Linked DNA regions of Homo sapiens. The protein of the gene in region 1 interacts with the protein of each later gene in a pairwise test. Each region holds a gene or a part of one and is shown on either strand. Other genes may lie near its edges.

Region 1 (7,034 bases):
CACACTGGGAGGCCGAGGCGGGAGGATCACAAAGGCAGGAGATCAAGACCATCCTGGCTAATACGGTGAAACCCTGTCTCTACTAAAAATACAAAAAATTAGCCGGGCGTGGTGGCGGACACCTGTAGTCCCAGCTACTTGGGAGGCTGAGGCAGGAGAATGGCGTGAACCCGGGAGGCGGAGCTTGCAGTGAGCCCAGATTGCGCCACTGCACTCCAGCCTGGGCTATAGAGCGAGACTCTGTCTCAAAAAAAAAAAAAAAAAAAAAATTAGCTGGAGAACTTTAAAAACATCAATGCCCAGACCCCTCTTGCAACTGATTCTAATGGAACTGGGATGAGATCTAAGCATCCAGTTTTAAATTCCCCAGTGATTTCCCCCCTCACCCCTACCTATGATTCTAATAATGCAACCAGCGTTGAGAAGGCTTACTAAAAACAGATTGCCAGGCCCCACATCCAAAGTTTCTGATTCAGCAGATCAGCATAGGAGCTGAGAATGTGAATTTTTACCAAGTTCCCAAGTATTGCTGATGCTGCTGGTCTGAGACCTTACTTAGAGAACCTCTGTTTTAGAGAAATTAATCTCACAAATAGAAGCTTATGATCCAGAAAGTAGAAGTCATACTGGTGATCCCATTTTAAGGATCATTAGGCCAATTTGTAAGGAAATACCAATTACAAAAGGGTCACAACATCTAAGTTACCCTTACTGTCTTCAAGGGGACAGAATATGCAGAATAGAAAGGAGATCCTGTGTGATGGAGTTAGTATTTTATTTTTATTGACTGATTGACACAGGGTCTTTCTCTGTCACCCAGGAGTGCAGTGGCGCAATCAGAGCTCACTGTAGCCCCAACTTCCTGGGCTTGAGCCACCCTCCTGCCTCAGCGTCCCAAAGTGCTGGGATTACAGGCGTGAGCCATCACACGCAGCCAGAATTGCTATTTAGAAAACAGGTCTATAAGGAAATCTTGATCAGAACTATTATGAACTTTTAAAATCCACACTCCATCAGGCTTCCCTACACACCTCTCACTCTCATCAGCAGCTTTTTCAGCTTCTTCCAGCTTTTGCAGGGCAGTGGCCAGGCGCTCCTGAGCACGGTCCAGCTCTTCTTCAACCAGCTGGATCCTACGGTTCAAGGAGGCCACCTCAGCCTCAGCCTGCATTTGAAGGAAAGAATGGACAAGGGAAGCAGAGGCATGGAGAAAAGAAGAAATAACTATGACATTAAGATCAGGGTTGACTACCATGAAAAAGCCAGAGTCTCGCAGGGTAGAACTTGTCTTAGCTCAGCTGTTAAAAGATCTAGCAGACATAACTTTATATATATATATTTCCTCCCTTTCCCATCAACGAACTCCCATATGTTCCACAGGAAGAGTGTTTTAAAACTCAGTTCCTTGCCCAGCCCAGTGAGTTAGTACCACCCACTTCCTGGACTCAGTTCAAATTCCTCAACACACTGGAGTCAGAAAAGAAAGTCAATGAAGGGTTCCTTCTGCCTGAGCTCTGGCTTGGAGGCATGTCTCATCCTCAGTAACCTTTCAAGTGTCTCATAAAGCAGGAAAAAAAAAAAAAAAAAAGCAAGGTTTCTTAAAGAGGGTATCCTGACTGGGTGTGGTGGCTCATGCCTGTAATCCCAGTATTCTGGGAGGCTGGGGCGGGTGGATCATGAGGTCAGGAATTTGAGACCAGCCTGGCCAATATGGTGAAACCCTGACTCTAATAAAAAATACAAAAATTAGCCAGGTGTGGTGGCGCGTACCTCTAGTCCCAGCTACTCGGGAGGCTGAGGCAGAAGAATCCCTTGAACCCGGGAGGCAGAGGTTGTACTGAGCTGAGATTGCGCCACTACACTCCAGCCTGGGCAACACGGTGAAACTCCATTTCAAAAAAAAAAAAAAAAAAAGAGGGAATCCTGGATTACCTATTAATTGCTGCTTAACTCAAACCGTTATTCCTATGATCACTTTACCCTAACACATCAGAAGAATAACTAGCCAAGGGAATGTCTTCCAGAATAGCCTTCCAGACTGGAAAGCAAAAGAATGGAATATTGTTGGGATGCCTACTCACCAGCCCTTCAACTTGTGCCCCCGTACTCCTTTTTTAAGTTGGCTACAAGGAGCTGCTTCTGGCTAAAATTATCTGCTTTGATAGCTTTACAAAAAAGAAAGAACATTTCCACCACACCCACTACCATTCCTCCAAATTTCTGAATTTTCTCCTTTCTATTCCTCCAGCCATCCCCTTAGCTTCACCCTCTAATACAGCGACAATCTTCCCCCTGGCCTCCATCTCACAATGAAGTATATAGGTTAGAGTCCAAGTAAACCCATCCTGGATGGGTTTTCTCTAAGAAACAAGGAAAGAAGGAGGCAGCCTGCAGGTGGATGGATAAATTCTAATGGTAGGAAAACCTCTTTCCATGACTGCCTCCCCGCTACCTTTACTGGTGGGAGGTACCCTGACTGCAACAGTATACAAGAATTTAATATGCCCCGCACACCACCCAGTTCAGATGCTTATCCAAGTGCCTGGTAAACACGATCTCTCTTCTATAGCCCAGATTGTGCCTGAATTCTATTACCCTGATTTCTTCCTGGCAGGCAGGAGTTGGTGCAGCTATAGAAACAGCCTGGGCCACTAGCTCCGATGAGGAAGAATATAGACCAAAAGACTCCTTTTTAACCATCAGGACTGGCACAAAAACTTCCACATACAAACATGAGAAGCTGAAGAGACTAGGAAGGGAAGCAGAGGGCTGGGGCTACAATCTAGCCACCAGGCAAAGAAAATCGAGAAGTCAACATAAGCTGAAATCATTAAGAAACCATTTGTGCCTCTAACTACACTACTCAAAACACCACAAAGACAAGTATTCTCTGCTTCTGCCTCTTCCAGAAAAATAGATGTTCTCTGTAACAACACACATTTCTCCTCACAAACCCAACAAGGCCATGGATCAAGAGCAAGTCAGGCTATCAGGCAAGACCTAGGAGACACTGCTAGTAAAATGACTTACCCCCCTCAGACGAAAAATACAACTAGATTTAGAGGAAGCTCATGAAATGTAAGACATCATGCAGCTCACCAGTAGTTACCCAAACTGGAGTAGAAGATAACAGGCTATGGGGCGGGGGTGTACAGTTGCCATGACAGCAAGCTGGCTCAGGCAGTTTCTCCCACAAATCAGCATTTACAATAGAATTCTTAGCAAGGCTGAAAAGGGAGAGGGGGAAAACACATCTTGGTGCCCTCCTAAGAGCATGCACACATGAACAAGCCTGTATCAAAAGCAGAACCTGAGATGGGAGTCCTAGAAAAAGCTTCAGAGACCCCCTCCAGGGTGGAGTGGTAGGGAATGGGACCTTGCCTTTCTCTTTTCTCCTAGCACAGAGGATCAGTTCTCTTTACAATGAAACAAAAGCCTGCAGAATCAAGATCTGATACTTTGTTTAAAGGAACAAGGAAGACAAGCTGACTTTTCCCTCATGAGTCTATGCACAGTGCCTGTCCCTTTCAGGTCAAATAATACCAATGGGTACCAAGAGATTGAACAGGCCTACTTTTTGCAGACCAGGCTACCTGTGGCCCTGGGAAACGTTAAGCTCTGCACTTTCCTAATCATCTTAGGTTTTAGCATGCCCATCCAGATGCGGTTTTGGTGTTTCAGCTGACCTATCTCTGCCCAGTGTGGAGGATATACAGTACTCTGTGGTTCTTCCCTTCAAGTAATAATAGGATTCTCCACTGCCCAGGAAGCAAAGATCCTGGGTGAGGGATTGGGGAAAGAGTAGAATGCCCCAGCAACTCAGTCACATTACCAGATGGCTGACAACACCTTCGGCTATCCTCCACTCCAAAGAGATTTCCCAAATATGTCAACCCCTCCAGGCAAGAAACTGACAGTGTGATGGTACTCTCAGGCAGAACAGGGCCAAGGACAGAAGGGGATTAGCCTAAATCTGGCTTTCTGCCACACTGGGGTTTCTCTTATTAGATAAAAGCCACAGATAAAATTCAAATGAAAGAGTATCAGAAAGTTAGGCTTGAGCCCTGTGAGTAAAGGACTATTTGAGTTCACTGTGCTCACAAATGCATTACCCAGGGAGATACCGTGTCCTTGGGGAATTTAAACTTCACCAAAGGGGAGGCAAGTTGGAAGGGAGTAGAGCTATCTGCCCCACAGTAAACAAAGGCGGAGCCTAAGCAGGGGTAAAGGGCTATCTGCCTCTCCCCTGTGAGTGTGTGTTCTAGTACTGGGGAAAGAGAAAGGAAAGCAAAGCAACCAAAGAAAGGTTGCTTAGTCCACCAGGCCCACGAATAGAAGAGAACCACACAACAGTCAAGCATTCTAACCTCTCCAGAGACTAGGAATTTAGGATTAAGGCCAGAATCAAAGCCCACTCCCTCGGTAGTACTCTTAAGGTTTTTGTTATTACTTTTTTTTTTCTTTTTGAGGCAGAGGTAGTGTGCTGACCTTACACTCCCGCAGTTGACCCCTCACTCCCCCAGTGCCGATACTCGCCCAGGCTGGAGTACAGTGGCATGATCCAATCCTGGTTCACTGCCACCTCCGCCTCCAGGGTTGAAGCAATTCTTGTGCCTCAGCCTCCCAAGTAGCTGGGATTACAGGCATGCGCCACCATGCCCAGCTAATTTTTTGTATTTTTAGTAGAGATGGGGTTTCATCAGATCCACAGGTGGACCTCAGATCCACCCGCCTAGGCCTCCCAAAGGGCTGGGATTACAGGTGTGAGCCACCGCACCCAGCCTCTTAAGTTTTTTAGACTAGAAAAAAATTAAAAAGAGAAAAATATCAGGGACAATTAGGAGAGAGTTATTAAAAACAGATAAGGTGAACTGTACATTTATAAATGGTTAAAATGGTAAATTTTACATGTATTTTTATCACCACTACCACAAAAAAAAAGAGATAAGGAAAAAGACTGCATTTAAACATTATGTTGCCATCTGTTTCCATTTAGACAGAAGTAAAAAGGAAATACAGAACTGAAAGTAAATTTGACAAGGTGCTACATTATAAAAGACCAATTTCCAGGCCGAGAGCAGAAAAGAAAGATGGATCCTAGAACACCAGTGTCTCAGTTTTAGACTCATCTAGCTTCCCAACAAGGGTGGCTTGGATGTTCACACAAAGTAACCAGGAAAATAATTAAGTGACAATCCCACTAACAGCATGAGATACCATCAGAGAGTGCAGTTTCCCGCTCCAGAGGAGGGAGGAGTCTGCAAAACCCACATTCCAGAATGCCTTAAGAGGATAACAGGTAGCCCAAGCAACCCCCCTCCCTTCCCACAGGTGTCTCCTCCTCAGTAGGGGTTCAAAGTTCAGCAGAGCAGCAGAAAGTCAAAAGATTAAGCTTCTTCAGGCTGGGGAGTAGAAGAAATGATTTCATCAATATTTAACTATAACTCTACTTCCCCATTCTGAGGACTTCCTCACTAGACCTCAGCTCAATAAGCAAATTTGGCAGGCTCTGAGTGAAAGTAGCTTAAGAAACATCACCCCAGGACAGGCGCAGTGGCTCATGCCTGTAATCTCAGCACTTTGGGAGGCTGAGGCAGGCAGATCACTTGAGGTCAGGAGTTTGAAACCAGCCTGGCCAACATGGTGAAACCCCATCTCTACTAAAAATAAAAAAATAAAATAATAAAAAAAAATCGCCGAGTGTGGTGGTGGATGCCTGTAATCCCAGCCACTCAGGAGGCTAAGGCAGGAGAATCACTTGAGCCTGGGAGGTGGAGGTTGCAGTGAGCAGAGATCGTGCAACTGCATTCCAGGCTGGGCTACAGAGCAAGTCTCCATCTAAAAAAAAAAAGAGGGGGGATGGGAGGCAGGAATCACCCACCTTAGAACTACTCCTAGAATGTCCATATTTAAATACTGAGCCTAAGATTCTGCAGCTCAACACATGGCCAGTTCCTCTGTCTTCCCCTTTAAAGCTATCTGGTCTCCAGAACAAAGGAGATGAGAAAGTGCCACTGGCCATAAAGAGTCACCCAGCCAGTCCATCTCACTTGCACAGATAATAAGAAGTTGTTGGCAAACTGAACAGAGGAAAAAAATCTACCTAGAAAAAGGTGTCTGAGGAAGACAACAAGCTCCCATCCCAGCATCTCCATGACCACTTATAAAAATAAGTGAGTATTCCAACAATCTTTAAGTATTTAAACTGGAGGGCAGCTGTCCCCCAATTACCATCCTTTTCTGAAATCCACCCCTCCCCCTCCCAAAAACATTCTCAGTTATTTCCCAGAGGAGCAGCCAAAAAGAAAAACAAAAACAAAAACTTACCAAGGGAAAGAACAAAGAACAAAGAATAAACCACATGAGTACTTTCACTGGATCTTGAATTTTAGCAACAGTTACTTTACTCTCTCAAGATCCTCCAAAACAAAGCCTCAACTCGTATCAGCTCCATCTATTAGACTGCACCCTAGACCTTGGAAAATCTTATGGCTTACACTAAAACTAATCAGCCACTTTTAAACAGAAAGACGTTTAAAGAAATCACTAGAATAGGCTGGGCACGGTGGATCACACCTGTAATCCCAGCACTTTGGGAGGCAGAGGTGGGTGGATCACCTGAGGTCAGGAGTTCGAGACCAGCCTGGCCAACATGGCGAAACCCCGTCTCTACCAAAAATACAAAAAATTAGCCAGACTTGGTGGCGGGCACCTGTAATCCCAGCTACTCAGGAGGCTGAGGCAGGAGAATCACTTGAACCCGGGAGGCGGAGGTTGCAATGAGCCGAGATCATGCCATTGCACTCCAGCCTGAGCGACAGAGTGAGACTCTGTCTCAAAAAAAAGAAAGGAAGAAAGAAATCACTAGAATCACTGTTCACTCCACCAACATTTTATGTTTCCACTTTCAGTTGAACAAATATTCCACTAGAGTCACCTGGAATTCATTATTGTCTCCACCAAATTGCCCAAGTCAATCAGAAACCTTGAGACTGGCACACCATCTGATTCTCTGCCATACACTCGCTTATCAG
Region 2 (7,034 bases), on another chromosome or scaffold:
AAGCTTCCCTTGCACTAAGATGCTTTATTTCTTCACTGCTTTCCCTCAAACTGTCACTAAAATACGAACTTTAGGATATTTTTATTCTCCTCACTCAAACCTATGAGACTTGTTTTCCAATTTCAAAGTTTTACTGAAAGAATTCGGTACTTGTAATTTCACATTATTCTTTCATTTTAGTATTTTTTTTTCTATTTTAAAAATCTATATTTAGTACATTATTTCACACACATAGTCTTATAAACACTGGGGGGGAAAATCCAAATTACTACCTGTAAAGTTCTATGGGAAAGATCCATGAGTTTCCTCTTGTATTGTGCAATTTTGGCTACAGATGTAGTTTGATTCTTTTGTAGCTCACTAATATCTTCAGATATGATCTGTTTAAAAAAAAATTGGGGGGGGGAGGGTTAATCAAATATCACAACTATTTATCAGTTACACCTGTATGGAAATTCTAATCTTGGGATAAGCCTGAGATTCATCTCTCAAAATATAAACTCTTTCCCTATAAATCTGTGCTTTATATTTCTTCCCTTTTTACATACCTAAAATTTTTTTAAAAGAATCATGCAAAGATATCTTTAGAGCTCTAGGAAATTTAGCAATGAGGCAATACATAGAAAAAATAAGCTGGGCGTGGTGGCTCACACCTGTAATCCCACCACTTTGGGAGGACGAGGCAGGCAAATTACTTAAGGTCAGGAGTTCAAGACCAGCCTGGCCAACATAGTGAAACCCCGTCTCTACTAAAAATACAAAGAAGTAGCTGGGTGTGGTGGCATGCACCTGTAATCCCAGCTACTTGGAAGGCTGATGCAGGAGAATCACTTAAACCTGGGGGATGGAGCCGAGATCGTGCCACTGCACTCCAGCCTGGGCAACAGAGTGAAACTCCATCTCACAGAAACAAAAAACAAAAAACAGAGTGAGACTCCATCACACACACACACACACACACACACACACACACACGGCTGGGCACAGTGGGTCACTCCTGTAATCCTAGCACTTTGGGAGGCCAAGGCAAGAGGAGTGCTTGAGACCAGGATTTTGAGACAAGCTTGGGCAAAATGGCAAGACCTTGTCTCTACAAAAAATATAAAAAATTAACCAGGTGTAGTGCTACATGCCTGTAATCCCAGCTCCTTAGGAGGCTGAGGTGGGAGGATCACTTGAGCCCAGGAGTTTGAGGTTGCAGTGAGCCGTGATCATGCCACTGCACTCCAGCATGGGCAAGAGGGAGAGGGAGAGGGGGAGAGGGGGAGAGGGGGAGAGGGAGAGAGGGGGAGAGAGGGAGAGAGGGAGAGGGAGAGAGGGAGAAGAGGGAGAAGAGGGAGAGAGGGGGAGAGAGAGGGAGAAGAGGGAGAGAGGGGGAGAGGGGGAGAGGGGGAGAGAGGGAGAGAGGGGGAGAGAGGGAGAGGGAGAGAGAGGGAGAAGAGGGAGAAAGGGGGAGAGAGGGAGAGAGGGAGAGAGGGGGAGGGGGAGGGAGAGAGAGAGACAGAGAGAGAGGGAGAGACCTATCTCAAAAGGAAAAAAAGAAAACACATACTTCAGAAATAATTAAGGAATCTGAAGTAACATGGAATACAGCCAACAACCAGGTCTGAGTGGAAAAAGTTAAGATGTGTAAGATGATATCTAGGGGGTGTCTTAATAGACAATTAGCCCTGTATCTAACTACTGACAGCAAGTACAGTACATTTCAACATTAACTGTTACAGAATACTTGGAGGGAGTAATCAGAGTGCAGAGGAAAAGGAATGATATTAATTATGCAGCAGGATACATTTTTATGCCTCTGGATCTTTGACTTGCTGTTTTACCTGACTGAAATCCCACTATTCTGCCTTAGGAAGTCTTAACCTTACAGGGTAGGTTAAAATCTCACTATTTTATTAAAGCATCCCAATCAGAATTAATCCCATAATTGTCTCTATCATAATTAATCATTCTATGCCACTGGCTTACATTTACATGTTACAAGAAAGAGGTTAAGATTGTGCAAGACATATTTTAGCACATCCACCTGCACACATCACCTTTTACAGAAACTTTCCAATGCCAGGCCATGCTGAAAGGACAAAATTAGGTGGCCATGTTTTATATTACAAAACCTAGGCAATCTCCCCATCCCAATTTTGAAAAATCACCAGGGTTTTTAGATACAAGAGTACTTACAACATTATTTTCTACCAGTAATAACTAAAAAAATTAGACATGTTATCAGCCACAGTATTTATTAACAAATACTAAAACCATCTAGGAATTGATCCAAGAAAGCCATCTAGGAATTGATCCAAGAAAGAACGCATGAGATTTTAAAAGGGAATATTTTAAAATTATTTTAAAGGACATAAAAGACTGCAAGGATTAAAGAGACATACCACATTCATGGATGAAATGATTTAATATTAAAATTCAATTCCCACAAATTAGTCTTTGCATTTAATGCAATTCCAACCATAATTCTAGCATTCTGACAAATTGATTCTAAAGTTTTTATGGAAGAATAAAGACCCATAAAGACCCAGAAAACTTTGAAAAGAAGAACCAAGATTAGAGATTCATGCTACTAGATATTAAGATACACTACAAAGCCATAAGACTAAAAAAATGTGGAATGGGTGGGTATAAGAACAGACCAACTGGCCAATGAAACATAAGAGAGGGTCTAGAAATAGATCACATATATATATGCAAACAGTGTAATTTAAATTCTTTGATAATCATTGAGGAATATCATATTTTTATAGGCAATATTAAAAATATAGGGCTGGGCGCAGTGGCTCACGCCTGTAATCCCAGCACTTTGGGAGGCCAAGACGGGTGGATCACGAGGTCAGGAGATCGAGACCATCCTGGCTAACACGGTGAAACCCCATTTCTACTAAAAATACAAAAAATTAGCCAGGCGTGGTGGTGGGCGCCTGTAGTCCTAGCTACTTGGGAGGCTGAGGCAGAACAATGGCGTGAACCCAGGAGGCGGAGCTTGCAGTGAGCCGAGATTGCGCCACTGCACTCCAGCCTGGGCGACAGAACGAGACCCCCATCTCAAAAAAAAAAAAAAAAAAAAAATGGACCCACTATTTAGAGAAAAATAAATCTGAGTTCATACCACATACTTTATATAAAGGTAAACTTCATGATGACAACAAAAGACTCAAACGTGAAAGGTTAAACTCTAAATTTTTTTTAATGTAGGATACTCTCAGACTTTGGGGTGAAAAATTATTTAAGCAAATTCCCAAAAAGAAAATACAAGGCAAACATTTAATGGATATCATTACATTAAAATTAAGGATTTCTCTTCAACTACAGACACCAAAGACAGAATTAACAAAGAGATGAGAAACTAGAAGATATTTACAACGTTATAAACAGAGACTACAATCTAGAGTAAATGATTACTGAAGTTCAATAAAGAAAAAATAGGAAGCCCAGTGGAAACACTGGCCAAAGATATGAATGATTTCAGTTCTGGACAAGATGGACTAAGCATATACAACCCCAATCTCTCCCATTTAATATAGCTATAAAACTTGGATGGAATACACGGGGCAGCTATTTGGGAACTCTGGCAGGAAGATCAGGTAAGATAGGAATTTAAAGTACCAATAAACTTGTGGTGAGTTTACCCATTTTTCCCCTCAGGCGTCCCTAGTCTGGTTTCAACCCAGCCTCAAACCTGGAAATGAGCATAAATGCTGAAAGGGAGCTCCAAGGGAAGTCTGCTAGTTATAGTGGGAGGAGATACATCGTATTACCTAGAGAAAGGTTTCTCAACTTCAGCACTATTAATCTTGGGTAATTCCTTGTTGTGGGAGTACTGTTCTGTACACTGCAGAATGTGTGCAGCATCTGGGCCTCTACACATTAGACGCCTGTAGTACTCCCCAACCAAGAGTCTCCAGACATTGCCAAATGTGCTCTGGGAGACAAAATCACCACCACCACCACAAGCCACTACTAAGAAGTACTGCTCTAAGACTTGAAATAATAGATTAAAAGGAAATGCTGAAAAAAAAAAAAAAGTCCAAATAACTCAAAAGAAAGCAGAAAAGTAGAAACAGGAATGAAAAACAGAGGCTACAAACACAAAACAAATAAATGGTAGGACTAAATCCAAACTTTTTGCTGTCTACAAGAATCTCGCTTCAAATATAACAATATAGGTAGGTTAAAAGCAAAAAGATGGACAAAGGTATGCCATACAAACACTTTTTATCAAAAGAAAGGTAGCGTGGCTATGTTAACACCAGACAAAGACTTCTGAGTGTCTTGAGTAAGTGTCCATGAACAGATGAATGGATAAAGAAAACATGGTGTGTATGTGTACACATATATACACACACAATAGAATACTATTTAATCATGAAAAAGAATGAAGTGCTACCATTTGCAGCAACATAGATGAACTTGGAAGACATTTTGTTAAGTGAAATAAGCCACGTGCAGAAAGATAAATTCTGCATGTTCTCACTCATATGTGGAAGCTAAAAAAAGTTGATTTAGTAGAAGAAAAGAGTAGAATAGTGGCTACTAGAGGTGGAGAAAGAGTAGGAGTAGGGAACTGCCAAAGGTTGCTTAACAGATACAAAAGTACAGCTGGATAGGAGGATTAAGTTCCAGTGTTCTATAGCACTATAGGTAACTATAATTCACAACCATTTATTGTGTTTCAAATAGCTATAGGAGTGAATTTCCCATGATACCAACAAATGATAAATGTATGGGGTAATGGATATGCTAATTACTTTATTTGATCATTACACACTATATCCATGTATTGAATTATCACACTATGCCCCATAAATATGTAGTTATGTATCGATTAAAAACAATAAAAGAAAAGGCCATTAGAGAAGATTTAAAACTTACCGAGGATTAAGAGGGATATGATATAATAATAAAAGGTAAATTTGCCAAGAAAACACAACAATCCTATATAACAACAGCCCTTCAAACTATTAATACATGAAGCAAAAACTGAGAAATGAAAGGAGAAAAACACAAATCCGTAAGTGTTGCTGTAGATTTCAAATCTCTTCTCAAACTAGCAGACAGAAAAAACAACAAGAATACAGAACTGAGCAATACTATCAACCAACTGGATCTCACTGACATTAATAGAAAACTTCACCCAAGGACTGCAGAATACACATTATTTTCATAGGCTCCTGGGTTATAAAACCTCAGCAAAGTTGGCCGGGCGCAGTGGCTCACGCCTGTAACCCTAGCACTTTCGGGAGGCCGAGATGGGTGGATCACGAGGTCAGGAGATCGAGACCATCCTGGTTAACACGGTGAAACCCCGTCTCTACTAAAAATACAAAAAATTAGCCGGGCGTGGTGGCAGGCGCCTGTAGTCCCAGCTACTCCGGAGGCTGAGGAAGGAGAATGGCGTGAACTCAGGAGGTGGAGCTTGCAGCGAGCCTAGATCGCGCCACTGTGCTCCAGCCTGGGCGACAGAGCGAGAGACGTCTCAAAAAAAAAAAAAAAAAAAAAAAAACCTTAGCAAAGTTAAAAGAATTGAAATCATAGAAATTTCTCTGACCTTTAAGAATCTTTAAGTATTTAATTATGAAAGTTTTTTTTTTTTTTTTTTTTTTTTTTTTTTTTTTTGAGGAGTCTCACTCTGTCGCCCAGGCTGGAGTGCAGTGGCACGATTTCTGTTCACTGCAACCTCTGCCTCCCGGGTTCAAACAATTCTCATGCCTCAGCCTCCCAAGTTGCTGGCATTACAGGCGTGCACCACGACACCCAGCTAATTTTTGAATTTTTTAGTACAGACCAGGTTTTGCCAAGTCGGCCAGGCTTGTCTTGAACTCCTGATCTCAAGTGATCCACCCACCCTGGTCTCCTAAAAAAGTCTACTTTATGAAATAAAATATTAAGTATATTTAAGCATTAATTTTATCAACATACAATAATATACCAAGACAATTATATGTCAACATAAAATAATCATTACTATAACCTTCATTTTCATAAGGCCCCATAAATAATAATATGCAATCCCTGGCTGAAACTGGAAATGACAGTCTAATTAATCCACTAAGACAAGAATTCTAAATTCATTATTATATCAAATCAGATTCATGTGATTTGGGGACTTCTATCATAAAGAAGGTAGTTGTATAAAACTATTAAATTGCAGTGTATGCTACATTGTTTCCTGATTAAGATAAAACAGTAGCACATATACTAAAAAGAATTAAATGTCTATAATCCCTTTCCCTACTTCCAGGGCCAGGGAATAAAAAGCTAAATGCTTACATCTAATCTGGTTTGATGCTGCTTAGTCATCTGATCTTGAACCTTCAGTCTTCGGAGAAGTTCCTTAAAACCCACCATTGGTACAGGAATTAACCTGAAGAAACGCAGTGAACAATTTTCAGACCTTAAGCCTATTACTACAAAATACAAGAAGTGAAGGTTTTAGTAACACTCATGTAATTTTACATCAACTTTCTAGGGCTCTAAGGCAGATCTATGACTATGAGATAACCATGTTATACCAAAGAGATTTTATTCAACCTCCCTATTTTACAAATGAGGAAATACAGTTCAGTCAAAACATTACATTATTAAATGAAAACGCAAATAGAATTTTCCGCTCCTAGTTAGTTCTCACTATGCTATGCTGCCTTACCATAATCTTTTTTTTTCTTATTTTTTTCTTTTTGTTTTGGCTGAAGCTTTAGCTGGACAATAATCAATATTTTTTAAAGGCCAGGAAAATGAAAATAAACTTGTCTCATATGTAAGAATTATAATTAATAGCTCCCATGTTTGCTTTCCTAGTAGCAAATATTAGTTCTTAAATGAAACAAGATGAAGACATACTTACTTTTCAGAATCAGGGTTATCTACCTTGGCCTGTTCCCAGATAATAGGATCAACACCTACCACAAATAAAAAATATTTTTTCTAAAACAATTTTCTATTTTTATAATATGTGTATGACAAAGGCTTTCCTAAAGCAAGACCCTATACCTAGAAGCTATAATGAAAAGTGACTGTCAAATATA
Region 3 (7,466 bases), on another chromosome or scaffold:
GAGCCCAGGAGGCAGAGGCTGCAGTGAGCCGAGATCGTGCCACCGTACTCCAGGGTGACAGAGTGATACTCTACCACAAAAAAAAAAAACGAATATGATATAGTGTGATATAGTCTCTGCCACTTGGAAATTCAAAGCCTGTTGAGGACTATTATATCATCATTCCTACCACTCTCATTACATTTTCTAGGGTTTCATTTATTCATCAAAGAAAAGAGAAAGATGAAAGTAACTTATTTTGGTTTTTCCACCTAACATTATTGTTAAAGTTTTACTTTTCAGTATTAGCACTGCTTTTAGAAAAATCCATGGAGAGCACAAATGAGACAGCTGCCTAAGCAACTAGGCTTAGCCCTAGACAACATTTATTCAGAATTGTCCATTGACTTGTGGCAAGCAACATTTTGGTATAAAACTAAATATGATGTCAACTTGCATTAAGTCTAGTTCTATTGGTGGAAGACTGATCTGGGAGCTCAGAAATCTATTAGGGTAGGGGTGTCCAATCTTTTGGTTTTCCTGGGCCACACTGGAAGAAGAATTGTCTTGGGCCACACATAAAATACACTAACACTAATGATAGCTGATGAGCTTAAAAGCAAAATTGCAAAAATATCTCATGTTTCTTTAAGAAACTTTATGAATTTGTGCTGGGCCGCATTCAAACCCATCCTTGGCCACATGTGAGCCTCGGGTTGGACAAGCTTATGTTAGGGTCTTATCTCCAATCTTGGCGAGCTGTATAATTATGGATAAATAATCTCACCTGTCCAAGCCTCAAATCCTCATCTATACAATGATAAGGCTAACCTAGATGATCTCTAAGAGTCATTTCAAATATAATTTTATCTTCATCATTCCTACCACTCCATTACATTTTCGAGGGATCTCATTTATTCATCAAACAATTATTAAACACCTAGTGTGTCTCTGGCACAGTGATCTCACTGAGCTTACATTTTGATTGTCCCACTGGCATATTAGAAAATTGGTTAACACATAAGCTTAAAGTTAATAATGGGATTAAAAAATGGTTAAGTGGCTTGTTTATTTGGCTTAGAACTCATAGAATGATGCATTTACGGATCAGTACGAAACTCTCCACATTTGACAGTACTCAGAAAATAAGAATGTTATTAAAACACTGTTGCTAATCAGAATTTAATAGGCCTACCACTGACATGATACTCTGATTAAAAGCAACTGCCAATATATATAGCCCCTATTTCTGGCCCATAAAAGACAAAAAGGTATGATAAAGTCAGCTTTCGTGGGGAGAGAATCTCAGTCCAATCTCTAACACGAATACGTGTCTGAGTAACAGTCTGTACTGATCCTTCTTGTCAACTTTTAATCCTTCTAACTGATGAAAAGCATGAGACATGTGTTTATTTTAAGTACATGCTAGTGGCTGGCTTTCTTATTTTCACCTAGCTTTGTACAATTGTACAGAATTCATTAAATGCTTAATAGAAACACTCACGCCCCCCTACTCAACTCCAAGCAGGGAGTGGGGCTAAAAGGATAACTCAGTTGCTCATAAAGAACACACAAAAATTAAATCCTAGAAGGAAGTCGGAAAAAAGAACAAATAATAACACAAGGCAAACTATGGTATTACAGAAGTCAAAACTTCAGGGTCTTAATATGGTGCTCACTCCCTGTTAAGACAAAAGTAAATAAAACTAAGAGTTCCTATAATAGGAGAACAGGAAAGAAAGGAGGACGGGAGATAACATTTACTCAGCACTTAACAGGTGCCAGGCACTATGCAGGTAGTTTTCACTTATTCTTCTCAAGAACTACACATATGAAAATATGCCTCAATAGGTGATCATCTACAATAAGAGTTAACCACTTTCCTTCATAAAAATGATTCCAACAGCCTAGGAGTGTATTCTAATGCACATGCACTGTGGATGTAAATAATCATTCTGCCTAAAATCTTGTATTTGGGACTGATATAGGTCTTGGGTCACCTAGGCAACCCATCCATCTTATGAAAGATTTAACTTAGGCCAGACAAGATAAAGGGCTGGACTAAGGTCATGCTTGTTTAGAAGCAGAGTTGAGATCAAACCAATAATCAACACATCGATATGCCCCTCTGCTGGTAACTGTTCAGCGAAATTTAGTAACTACTAAGTTACCACCTATTAGTACTTTATTAAAACAATCCTAATAATCCCATTATACAAATAGCACAGAATCTCAAAAGAATAATTTGTTAATTTCTATATATTTTTAAAACCAACTGATAAGCAGTAACCTGCGTTTGAACGTATGTCTATTGCCCTGACTGCTCTCCACATAAAGATGCCAGATGCAAAGCAATGTTGGGGGAACTGGGGGTGATCGGTCGCTGAGGTAAAGATCGCCTCCTATAAAGCCCCACGTTGATGATCCTGGCCCTGGGCTCCCTGTCCCCTCCGCGATTTGTAACCCCTGAGCCGGGCGGGAGGACGGAGGATGAGTGTGCAGTAAAGAGGCTCCCGCGCCCTCGGCTCGCCGATTCCCCTCGCGACGCCGGGCCGGTTCCGAACGCGGACCGGACCGTTAAGGGGCTGCCTGGGCCGCTACGCCCCGCGCGGGCCGCCCCTCCCCCACCGCGGCCTGAGGAGAGCGGCGCTGCCGGCCGGGCCCCCGCGGCTCCCCGAGCGAACAATACAGGGGGTCCCCCGCGAGGCTGAACGCCAAGGCCCCGCACCGCGGGCCTCGCAGACAGCGTCGAGCCGCAAGGCCGCGAGAGACCACCCCGCAGGAGAGCGAGTGAGGAGGCGGTTATTCAGGGGGTTCAGAGGCCGCCGTGGCCTGACCGTACCTGGCTCCAGGTGATGAACTCGTTAGTGTGGGTTTCCTCCACAAGCGTCCACAGCTTGCTGAGGAAAGCCGGCACGTTCGAACTCTGCTTCATTGTTAACGCGGCGCAGGGATTCCAAATTCTACACCCGAACGCGGTGGTAGCGGCGGCGGCAGCTACGGCAGCAGCTCCCCGAGAACGCCCACAACGCAGGCGCAGCAGATCTTGGTCCCCGCCCCCCCAACCCCGCCAGGCGCGCGGCAAGGCCGAGAGGCCGGGCGGCCGCACGTGACGGACAAGTCTCCGCGCTCCGCCTGTGCGCGCAGTGGTTCCGCGCCTGTCCCGTCCCTGGCCAATCCCAGGAGCCGACTGCACGACAGAGAAAAGCGATTGGCTGCTGCTGACATGAAGGGGGTGGGAGCAGAAGGGGGTGGGAGCAGAAGGGGGCGCTGCCTCCTCATTTGCCTTTTATACAGAAGCCTTGATGGTAGCAGACTTAGGCTTGGGAGACCGTGTTTGGATGTTTCACGTGGAAACAGCTTATGGTTTCTGGGCTGTGGCTGGGAGGCTACAGAAACCCTTCAGGGCCTTTGAGTCATAAGTTTGGCAGGCAAAGTGTGGTTTGCACCAGTTTAGAGAAAGGATCCATTTGCATAAGGAAAAAACCAGCTCTCAAGCATGATGTGCTAGGCCCCAAATTGAAATTGTCTTAAAAATAATGAAACTTGTTCTTACATTTTCATTGGGAGAAAAAGCCCTCTTTAAAATATGTTTATCAAAAAGAGCAGTTTAAATAACTCACTCTCGATTACTTAAAACTGTAAACCAGGAACTGCAATTGATATATCATGTGCTGTTTTTAATCCAGTCATCAAGTGCCTACTCTGTACCCAGAATAAAAAGAAATAGACTCATTTGTACTATTTTAGTTAATTAAAATAGTTTTTCCTGCGTATACTTTACAGATATAGTCTTTTTTGCCTAAGAGATTGGTATAGTGGAAAAAACAATGGAAAAGGAGTCAGTAGATCTCAGTTTAGATAAAGCCTCTTGGACATTTTTCTGTATATTAAAATACACTGGTTCTGTCATTTAGAACAATTCCTTAGCCACCAGTGCCAGTTTTTTCCATTTCTTGACTGGGAATAAGATCTATCTTTTTACCCACTAAGAGTGTCTTTAATACTATAATGGCTGTGCAAATGCTTTGAAAATATGAAGTCTACAAAATTCGACTTTTTTTTTTTACAAAAGTCAGCATGTGAAGGCAAAAACTTACAAACAAGTCAGAGATAACATACAAAACTTCAACATAGGATTGGTTTACTTCTTGGGTGAATGTAAAATAGTACATTAAATATATATCTATCATTTAATGGAAGATATATGTATATCTCTTCCAATGAGCAAGTATTTAGTGAATGCTGCCTTTGTGCTCAGCACTGGGATGTTGGCTGAAGCAAAATCAGATATATGGAGGCATGCATGTGATAGAGGAAGTAATATTTGATGAGCCCTTATATATGCCAAGGGCTTTACATATATTATTGAATCCTCACAACAACCCAATGAACTAGGTTTTATTATCCCATTTTCCCAGAGAAGATTCTGAGACTCAAAAGTTGATTAATTTCTTCAGTCACAGCAAGTAAATGGGAGAGTATTTACACCCAAGCTTTATTGAGCTCAAAAGTATGTGCCCTTTCCATTGTACAATGATGACACTGTTTCAAAGCTCAAGATGCTTATATTCAAACTCAAGAAACAATATGACCACAGTGATCAGCACTCAATATATACAAAAAGAGCTAAATGTTTTGTATAAAATAAGTACTAGATAAGTTTAAAAAGACAGATTAGTAGGTTAAGGTGGTAAGGAAGGATTTCATGGCAGATAGGGACCTTAAGTTGGGTCTTGAGGTACAAATATATTTGAATAGCTAAAAGGAAGACAACAGAATGAGCAAAAACCAGGAAGCTAATGATCATGTCTGTCTATGGAGGGCAACAGCTCAGGAGGTAAGAATGGCAGTGTCTAAGGAGGAAATGTGGCCTACTTTCATGGCATTATATTATTTTCTTCTAAAAAAAGAAGGTGTGATTAGATAGAAGCAGAAACTTGTCTTTGGACATTCAAAGGCTGGGCATTCATAGGGCTGGGCTTAGTGGGGTGCCATACTTAGTTTAATGCTCTGTTCTCATCCTCTTGAAATTCTCAGTTTTTGAACAAGGGACTGTACATTTTCATTTTGCAATGGATCTTGCAAATTGTGTAGCTGATTCTGTTTCCAATGTATGGCATCTTATAGACCGTAAGTTTGAAACAAATGGTTCTCAAACTTAAGCATGCGTCTGAATCACTTGGAGAGGGAAGCCTTCCAGTAAGCAAATGAGCAATATCACTTATCAGGTAGTATTTGTAATACTTATAAGGGCAGTGACAAGGATAAGTTATTAACCAGATAAGAAAACCTTGGCACCAGAAAACTTAGATGATGTATCCAAAATCATCTAGTTAAGGTTGGAATTGAAACCAGGTCTTTCGTAGTCTGAAACATGCTTTTTAAATTTACACCAATGTGTCTCAAACTTTAGCGCAGAATCACCTGGACAGCTTCTTAAAGAACAAATTGCTGCTTTTGCTTCCATGGCTCTCAGTAAGTCTGGGGTACAGGTTAAGAATTTTTATTTTTAACAAGTCCCAGATGACGCAGATGCTACTGGCCCTGGGACCGCATTTTGAGAATTGCTGTTATAGAGGAAAAATTAGTAAACTGAGCTTCCCTTACTACTAAGATGTACAGATTTATTGTTATGCTTTACTTCTGTCTGTTTTTTTTTTTTTTTTTTTTTTGACAGAGACTTACTCTGTCATCCAGGCTGGCAGGCTGGAGTGCAGTGGTGTGATCTTGGCTCACTGCAAACTCTGCCTCCCGGGTTCAAGCAATTCTGCTTCAGCCTCCTGAGTAGCTGGGATTACAGGTCTGCACCACGAAACCTCACTAATTTTTGTATTCTTAGAAGAGATGGGGTTTCACGATGTTGGCCAGGCTGGTCTTGAACTCCTGAGCTCAAGTGATCTGCCACCTTGGCCTCCCAAAGTAATAAGATTACAGGTGTGAGCAACTGCACCTGGCCACCCTTCATCTCTTAATAAAATCCAGATGTTCCAGGAATAACTTAAACGACTATGTTTTGTTTTTCTATGAACTTATAATCGTTAATATTTATTATAATTAGTACATTTTCTGAAAAACTAAGTATTGAATGCAGACTTTTTTTGGGGAAAAGGAAATTATAACTTGGCTTGTTTGCACTTATTTATAAAACTGAGAGGGGAAGAAAACAAAATCAAGCTTTATCTCACAATTATTTGCCACCTATAATATCCCTAAAATATCAGAAGAAACAGATTTGCGCCAGTGTCGACAATTTTGACATGTTTATAACACAAGAAGATAAAAATGTCACTTTCTTAAAGGAGTTGCCTCCTGTTAACTCCAGTTTAAAAAGCTGGATTATTTTCATGGTTCATTTGCAGCCTAGAATGTAAGACTTAGATTTAGAATAACATTCAAAAATATGAATGATCCAGACCTTTGTCTAGGAAATAGAAAAGCATATTATGGAGCAATTTGATGCTTCAAATCATCAGACGATGCCATAAATTCTATCCAATCGATTTTGCAAAACTAATTGGAATCAACGGTGCAACCAGTATTAGCTTTTAAAGATTTTTTTTTCAAGGATAGGATGATTAAATCCAAAGGTGAACTGCATAGAGGTTTCCACCTATATTGCTATCTGGACAAAGTGTTGATTTTCTTCAATTTTGGAATGACTTAGGGGACCTTAGGCAAATCACCTAACATTTTCTAGTCCTCGTTCCTTATATATAAGATGTGAGTGAAAAATATCTGCTATGCTCACTTCACAGGGTGGTTTTGAAGATCAAAGAAATTGTCTCTTCCTCCAGTCCACTTTCACAATCTTTATGGATCTCTTTCTAAAACACAAATCTGAAAAGGTCACTTCCTGACTTAAAACTATTCAGTGACTTCCCATAATTTCCAGAATAAATTCAAACCCCTTAAGGGGCATAAAAGGCCTTCTCTGATCTGATGCCGCCTACCATTTCAGTTATTGTCTACCATTGTTTACAACGCCTTTCCCTTAGCCACACCTAATTGCTTGTAGTTACCTTACTGGTCATATTCTTTTATACCTCTATGTATTTCCATAGGCTGTTGTCTCTGCCTGCAGAGCCCTTCTTCACCATTTTCCCCTAAATTCTTCTTCAACCTTCCAGGTCAAGTACAATCCCGTACAAACATAAGTTCTTTTGTGAAATCTTCCTTGGTAACATTTATTATAGCACTTACTACATCATATTATAATTATTTATTTACATGTATTTTTCATTCTAGACTATGAAACTGCTTCAACATAAATACTATGTCATATGTACATTCACTTATTTACAATGACATTCACAATGCATGATATATGTTAAAATATCAATAAATATTTGTTGAATTAATAAATGAATACATGAACAGGTAAGTGCTAATCATCTGTTTATTCTTGCATGACCCCCAAATCTGGGTTAGTTGTTCCTCCCATGTGCTCCTATAGCTCTGGAACTTGACCTTCATAGTTTTTACCA
Region 4 (7,034 bases), about 47 Mb from region 1:
AACACGGGATTTGCCCTGCCTTGCGGCTTATTCTCTCCCACTCAAGGCCTCCCACTGCCCCACCCTGGAGGTGCCAGTTGCATTGCCATCTGTGGATGGAGTTGTGCCATGTGGCAGCTACCCGTTTTCCAGCATCCACTCTGCTCATTCACTTTCTAGGCCTTCCTCTCTCTGAGCCCTTCAATGACCACCCTTATTCCACAGGATAAAGTCTAAACTCAGCCTGTCCTTCAAGGCCCTCATGAGTGAGCTACACTCTCACTTATTTTTTTTTTTTTTTTTTTGAGAAGGAGACTCATTCTGTTACCCAGGCTGGAGTGCAGTGGTGCGATCTCGGCTCACTGTAACCTCCGCCTCCTGGGTTCAAGCAATTCTTCTGCCTCAGCCTCCTGAGTAGCTGGGACTATAGGCGTGCACCACCATGCTGGCTAATTTTTGTATCATTAGTAGAGACGGGGTTTGACCATATTGGCCAGGCTGGTCTTGAACTCCTTACCTCATGAACTGCCCGCCTTGGCCTCCCAAAGTGCTGGGATTACAGGCATGAGCCACTGCGCCCAGCTGCTCTCACTTTCCAAACATATTTCCTATGGACTCCATTCTGTTCTCCACTGGGATTGGCAAGCTTTATCTGGAAAGGGCCAGATAGCTTTGTAGCTCACATAAGGTTTCTGTTGCAAATTCTTAAAAAAAAAAAAAAAAAAAAAGCTTACAATTCTTTAAGCAAAAACAGGCTGGGAGCCAGGTCAGGCTTATGGGCTGTAGTTAGCTGACCCCTGCCCTGCAACCCTGTCCCATCTTGACCTGCTGGAATCCAATGTGTCTGATTTCTTCCTTTTGTGTTCTGACTCTGTCTCCTAGGCTGGGCTCCCAAGGCCCAGCTGGGCAGGGGCAGGGGTTTCCACTTTCCCTTATGAATGATTCCTCTGTGCCCCCTAGGTGCTGTCTCACTGCCACCATGCCGGAAGTGTAAGTAGTCTCACTGCCATCTGGGGCCCCAGGAAGGCAAGTCCCTTTGCCACAGACTTCAGCCCCGCAGTGGAGGCACCATGTTTTCAACCCCCAAAGCTTTTCCCTAAGAGACCAGGTCCTCAAACAGGGGCAGCACTTGATGGTTTCCCCTGTGCTGCCTGTGTCCTCCCAGCCATTGAGCAGAACTCACTCCCAGGTTGCCCTGGGAGTGCCTTTTTGGCTTGTGCCTCAGAGATTTCCTGTCTTGATCTATCACATGAATTGCATGTACCAGGCCACCACTTAACACTGGTGCAGTAGGTGAACAAAGCTTTGGGAATTTACCCACGCACCCGTGGATGGATGCTTTCACGTTGCTGGAACCCTACGCTAAGGCTTCCCTCCCCTTCCACCACTTGTCCCCAACTTACGATGCCCAGTACCTCCCAATAAGAATGCCCCGTAGTTCAAAGGGCTGTTGAATTTTTATTTTATTCTGCCGGAACCTCAAACCGCTCCCCTTGCCTGATGCCTGATGACTTTCTGGCTCACTGTTGTCACTGGCCCCCTCCTCCCCCAAGCTGGTCTGTGAGGTTCTGCGACTGCACATGTAATCCTCATTGTTCATACTCACTCTGTGTTCTGCTCTTTCCCCGTCCTTCCTGTGATGGATGCCTGAAGCGAGGTAAGTGATATTTGGGGTATCTCTGTCTTGGTTAACTCTAACGACTGGTAAAAGTGGGAAGGTGGGGTTGGCATCTGAGGAGAGGGAAGAGCCTGTGTTAAGGCCTGGTGGGAGTCCAGGGGGTGTAGGGTATTTAGTGGCTGAACAAATTCCCAGGAGATGGAAACGTCAGGTGAAGATTCTGGATGTGGGGCTTCCTAGTGTCCAGGGAGTTGCTGTGCCAGTGTACCATGTCACTGGAAGGACTGGTATTGCAGCAGGGTTGGGTGTGACTCTGCATCCTTGCTGAGCACAAGCTCTTCCTCACCCACTCTGAGAGCTGGTCCAGTCCTGGGGGGACCATCCTATTCCATGCAGAGCTGATCCTGTGCAAAGCTATATTGGAAGGGTAAGGGATAGTCATTGGGTTATTCCACCCTTGCCCAATGGCTGAACATTGATTGAGGAGCAAAGAGATGTCCTTAAATCCCTCAGGTGTTAGAAAACCCTGACACTGGCCATTCTATACACTCCAGACTTACCAGGCTACTGAGATCACAGCCTATGTACAGTCCAAGGATGGGGATGGCAGGGATAGGGATGTGGGCCCAGGGATGGAAACAGTGAGAATTAGCAGTATTGATGGAGGGGATATTTGGCACAGAGATTCTCAGTAAGAATTGAACATGTTACTTTTCAACATTCATATGAATTTTTAAGTTTTGCTGAGGCTCGTATTAAAGTGAGTCCTCACTGACTGATGGTCAAATGAGGTGGCCATCGGCTCACCAAGTGGTGGGGAAATAAGATCGCAGTCAAACATTTGCCATGTGTACATTACAGTGTGTAAACCATGGTAGTAATGCTTAGAGTCATAGGCTCTTTCTTTTGAAATTGCACTTATCTGAAATGTAACAAAAATCTTTAGGAGAGGAAAAGACAAACCAACCACTCTGAACAGTCAGAATAGAAGTTACACATTCCATTTGCTGAAACTCATCCATTGTCTCTCATGAGAACTTCCCTCTCAAAGCCTAATCACTTCTACTTGACACCCTGGAATAACATTTGAGAGCCATGCTCTGCCGGCTCACAGCACATTAAGTCTAGGTAGGATGCTTCCTGCTGGCAATGAGAAGTGACCGCCTATGGCCCAGAAGATACTCTAGTGCTCGAAAGGCATCACAGTCTCATTAGTTGGGGACCAAGCAGCCCTACTACTCACCTTTGCCAACCCTGAGGGACCACTGTCACAGGGCTAGGACTAGTAAGCAAGAACATGTTTAGGATTTTTGATAAGAAGATAAAACAGTGGTTTTATATCTTAGAAAGATTTGTATGGGTGGTGTTAACATTTTTAAAAGTTTTGAGGTCTACATAGATACGTTTCATTTATTTGGGAAATTCACAGCTTATTTATGCAGCATGACGGATCATCAAGGTATTGCTGTATTACTACCTGGAGTGTGAAAACACATAGCTTTTACGATTTTCAAAGGATTTGCACATCCATGATCTCATTTCATCTGCAATAACTCTGTGAACTAAGTAAGGGGGGGGGTCCTAATATCCTTATTTACAGATGAGGAAGGAGGTGCCTGTAGAAGCCATGTGGCCCTCATAGTATCTTACAAGATTTCAGCAGCAGCAGAATCAGAGTGGGAAGTTAAGGCTTCAGCCCCTAGGTCAAGGTAGCTGACTGCAGCCTTCTCTGAACTGCAGAGGTTAAATAACAAAGATGAGCTTTTAAGGCACCGTAGGGTGAGCAGAGGATTCCGGATAAAGATAGAGAACGCTGGCTGGCACTTGTCTTGTCCTAGACCAGAATTCCAGTTCTGCAGCCTCTGCCTCACCACCTGTCTCTCTCTCTTCTTGCCCACAGAGAAAACCCAAGATCACTGCCTCCCGCAAACTCTTGCTGAAGGTGAGGCTGGGGGCTGGCTGTGGGGGGATGCCCAGTGGGAGGCAGAGGGGCAGCAGAGCAGACTCTGAAGGGATGTGGAGGATTATGGCAAGGAGAAAGGAAGGAGGCCAGAGTGAGGATGATGAGGGGCAGGAGTCCAGCATTGCTGGAGCCAGTGCCAGGCTCAGGTGATCAGTAGGTGGGATCCTCGAGTATGGATTCTGGCATCCGCCTGTGGTCCCTAGAGTAGGTGGTGACCAGCTTCAGAGTGGGAAGCTACTCATGCAGGCAGAGGGACTTCCTTTATTTTCATATGTGTTTCTCTCTTTGGAGTTTTGTGGGTCAAAACAGACAGTAAGTGGATAAGAGGAAGACTGTCCGGGGAAAACAAGTTCCAGGGCTTGAGGAACATTGTGTGCAGCCACTGGGTGTACCCTCATGGTGGCCTGTCCATGGCTGCTGCATACACTTCTACACTGGACAGTGGTCTCAGAGTTGGCCCAGGCTGTGGCTGCCCTCCCCTCATTCCCTGATGCCGGGTGGGAGATGTGAGGCCCCCAGCTCAGCAGGTGTGTCCTGTCCAGAGCCTGATGCTGGCCAAGGCCAAGGAATGCTGGGAGCAGGAGCACGAGGAGCGCGAGGCTGAGAAGGTGCGCTACCTGGCAGAGCGCATCCCCACGCTGCAGACCCGTGGCCTGTCCCTCAGTGCCCTGCAGGTTAGCCTGGCAGGTGGGGCGGGGCAGGGTGGGGCTGGAGGTGCTGTGTGGGTGGCTCCAAGGACCAGGCGGCAGGAGCCTGAACTAACACCAGCTCAAGGCTCCATAATTTACAGGGCACTCCTCCCTTACATGGTCTCATTTAATCTTCACAACCACCTGTGAGGTGGGAACATTAGATTCCATTTTACGGGCACTGAACTGAGCATCAGAGGGGAGGCGTGACTTGCCTGGGCTGGGCGGCCCAGCTTCACAATCAGCCAGTGTGGTGGCATGGAGTGGGGAGGCGGCCGGGGTTGGGAGAAGCCCCACTTTTCCAAGGACTTGTCTACCCTTTCCTAGAATTTGGTCTTCAATGTTTTCAGAACACTGGTAAATTGGTTAAATGCCAGTGATTATAGAGAAAAGAGACTGGAAGGAAGTATATCAAAATGTTACTAAGTATCCCTGGGTGGTGGCATCACTAGGTATTTTAATTTTTATTATTTTTGTTTAATACATAGTTTTCAAAATGTCTAAAATTAACGCATTACTTTTATCATAAGAAAACTATTTTATTTTGCTGGGCACAGTGGCTCATGCCTGTAATCCCAGCATTTTGAAAGGCGGAGGCAGGAGGATTACTTGAACCCAGGAGTTCGAGACCAGCCTGGGCAACATAGTGTGAGACCTTTTCTTTATACAAAGTTTAAAAAAATGAGATGGGAGGGTCACTTGAGCCCAGGAGGTTGAGGCTGCAATGAGCCATGATGAAAGAATACTTTTTTTTTTTTGAGGCAGAGTCTCATTCTGTTGCCCAGGCTGGAGTGCAGTGGCGTGATCTTGGCTCACTGCAACCTCTGTGTCCCAGATTCAAGTGATTCTCCTGTCTCAATCTACTAAGTAGCTAGGACTACAGGTGCACACCACCATGCCTGGCTAATTTTTGTATTTTTAGTAGAGACAGGGTTTCACCACATTGGTCAGGCTGGTCTTGAACTCCTGACCTCAGGTGATCCCCCACCTTGGCCTCCCAAAGTGCTGGGATTACAGGGATGAGCCACCGTGCCCAGCCAAGGATACTAGTTTTTTGTTTGTTTGTTTGTTTTTTTGAGACGGAGTCTCGCTCTGTCACCAGGCTGGAGTGCAGTGGTGTGATCTCAGCTCACTGCAACCTCCGCCTCCTGGGTTCAAGCGAAGGAATACTATTTTTTAAGAAATCATGACATTCAGACAGGAGAACAGAGGGCATACCCTTTGAGCTATTGCCCGTCATGAGCCTCAGAGTGGAGGAGACTGTCAGCTCCTCTCTGGATCCCAGGTCTTGCAAAGGGGCTGGGGAGAGGGTCAAGGGCTGGAAACTGATGTCTCTGTTCCCCTCTTCTTCACACCTGCATGATCCATCTGCGGCCCCCAGGACCTGTGCCGGGAGCTGCACGCCAAGGTGGAGGTGGTGGATGAGGAGCGATACGACATTGAGGCCAAATGCCTCCACAACACCAGGGAGGTGAGTCTAAGGAAGGGAAGGGGCATGGCCATAATGGGTTGGGCAGGGGCATGGGCACGGATGCAGCAGCCATGGGAGGTCCCCTCCTTCCACAGGGCCTAGGAAGGGGCCACTTAAGCAGGAAACTTTGGTTTGTCTGCCCTAGCCCCATAGGGCTGGAGATGGGTAGAGTGGATAATCACACATGAAAAGTACAAACTTCCTCCCTACCTGCCATGTGGGCTCATCAGCCTAACAGAAGCTGCTCTCTTTATCCACCCACACAAATAATCATATGCCTGTTAATAACGTCTTACCTTTGTGAAGTGCTTTCATGTTCGTTATAGCCTTTGATCCTCCTTATAGGCCTGTGGATGAAGTAGGGGCTATTATCTGCACCTTGCAGAGGAGAACACTCAGGATCAGAGAGGCCAAAGACTTGTCCTAGGTTGCACAGTGGTGGTCCTGGGACCAGTGCTGGTCTCTGGCTTCCACTCCGGTGCTCTGTGCTCCCTTAGCATGGGGTGTGGGAGGATTAGCTCCACCCAGACCCTGCTCCAGTGGGGAGGGGCAGAGCAGAGAAGGACAGGGCTCCTTTGGGGCATTTGTCCAGGCAGTGAGGAGGGGGCAGGGAGGGAGCACAAGCCACTTCTCTCCTTCCCACTTCTGCCCACCAGGAATTATATGTGGGGTCACCAAGCTCCTAAGAACTCCCCCTAGAGATCACACCCTGGGAATTCCTCCAGGGGTCTAGGACCTGTAAGTTTATCACCCTGCTGGACCAAGGCTGTGAGCTGCTTTGAAGGCTCACTGGGGAGGAATAAGTTAGAAGCAGGGATGAGGCTGCAGGAACAAGAGGAAGCAGCCCTGCACTCCAAATAGGGCTTCCAAATCAGACAAGTCTCAGTCTGGTGGAGCCGCCCCTTTTATTCAAGGCTATAGTGTTAGCAACGGCTAATAGGCTTTATCTGTCCACTTAACCATCCGTTTATCAGCAAATGTGCAGTGGTTATTTGCAAAGGGATGGGTGGGTCTGACTGTCCTAGAGCAGGGATCTCCAACTCTTGGGCTGTGGACCAGTACCTGTCCGTGGCCTGTTAGGAACTGGGCCACACTGCAGCAGGTGAGCAGTGGGCAAATGAGCATTCCCGCCTGAGCTCTGCCTCCTGTCAGATCAGCGGCGGCATTAGATTCTCACAGGAGTGTGAACCCTATTGTGAACTGTGCATGTGAGGGATCTAGGTTGCACGCTCCTTATGAGAATCAAACTCATGCCTGATGGTCTGAGGTGGAACAGTTTCATCCTGAAACCACCCCACCACCTCTCCGTGGAAA

The links.
Region 2: the proteins of TPM3 (region 1) and NUP54 interact in binary tests that used the Homo sapiens proteins (3 or more experiments, as listed by UniProt).
Region 3: the proteins of TPM3 (region 1) and HSF2 interact in binary tests that used the Homo sapiens proteins (3 or more experiments, as listed by UniProt).
Region 4: the proteins of TPM3 (region 1) and TNNI1 interact in binary tests that used the Homo sapiens proteins (3 or more experiments, as listed by UniProt).

Annotation. Positions count from the first base shown.
Region 1 is NC_000001.11:154,175,084-154,182,117, forward strand, and holds part of TPM3 (tropomyosin alpha-3 chain), read right to left. Parts: intron 3,122-7,034; exon of another isoform or gene 3,031-3,121; intron 1,166-3,030; coding exon 1,032-1,165; intron 1-1,031. UniProt on the Homo sapiens protein: Binds to actin filaments in muscle and non-muscle cells. Plays a central role, in association with the troponin complex, in the calcium dependent regulation of vertebrate striated muscle contraction.
Region 2 is NC_000004.12:76,124,377-76,131,410, forward strand, and holds part of NUP54 (nucleoporin p54), read right to left. Parts: intron 6,909-7,034; coding exon 6,854-6,908; intron 6,374-6,853; coding exon 6,280-6,373; intron 381-6,279; coding exon 273-380; intron 1-272. UniProt on the Homo sapiens protein: Component of the nuclear pore complex, a complex required for the trafficking across the nuclear membrane.
Region 3 is NC_000006.12:122,395,186-122,402,651, reverse strand, and holds the start of HSF2 (heat shock factor protein 2), read right to left. Parts: upstream 3,001-7,466; 5' UTR 2,915-3,000; coding exon 2,822-2,914; intron 1-2,821. UniProt on the Homo sapiens protein: DNA-binding protein that specifically binds heat shock promoter elements (HSE) and activates transcription. In higher eukaryotes, HSF is unable to bind to the HSE unless the cells are heat shocked.
Region 4 is NC_000001.11:201,411,718-201,418,751, reverse strand, and holds part of TNNI1 (troponin I, slow skeletal muscle), read left to right. Parts: intron 1-939; 5' UTR 940-958; coding exon 959-969; intron 970-1,632; coding exon 1,633-1,636; intron 1,637-3,497; coding exon 3,498-3,539; intron 3,540-4,102; coding exon 4,103-4,234; intron 4,235-5,630; coding exon 5,631-5,720; intron 5,721-7,034. UniProt on the Homo sapiens protein: Troponin I is the inhibitory subunit of troponin, the thin filament regulatory complex which confers calcium-sensitivity to striated muscle actomyosin ATPase activity.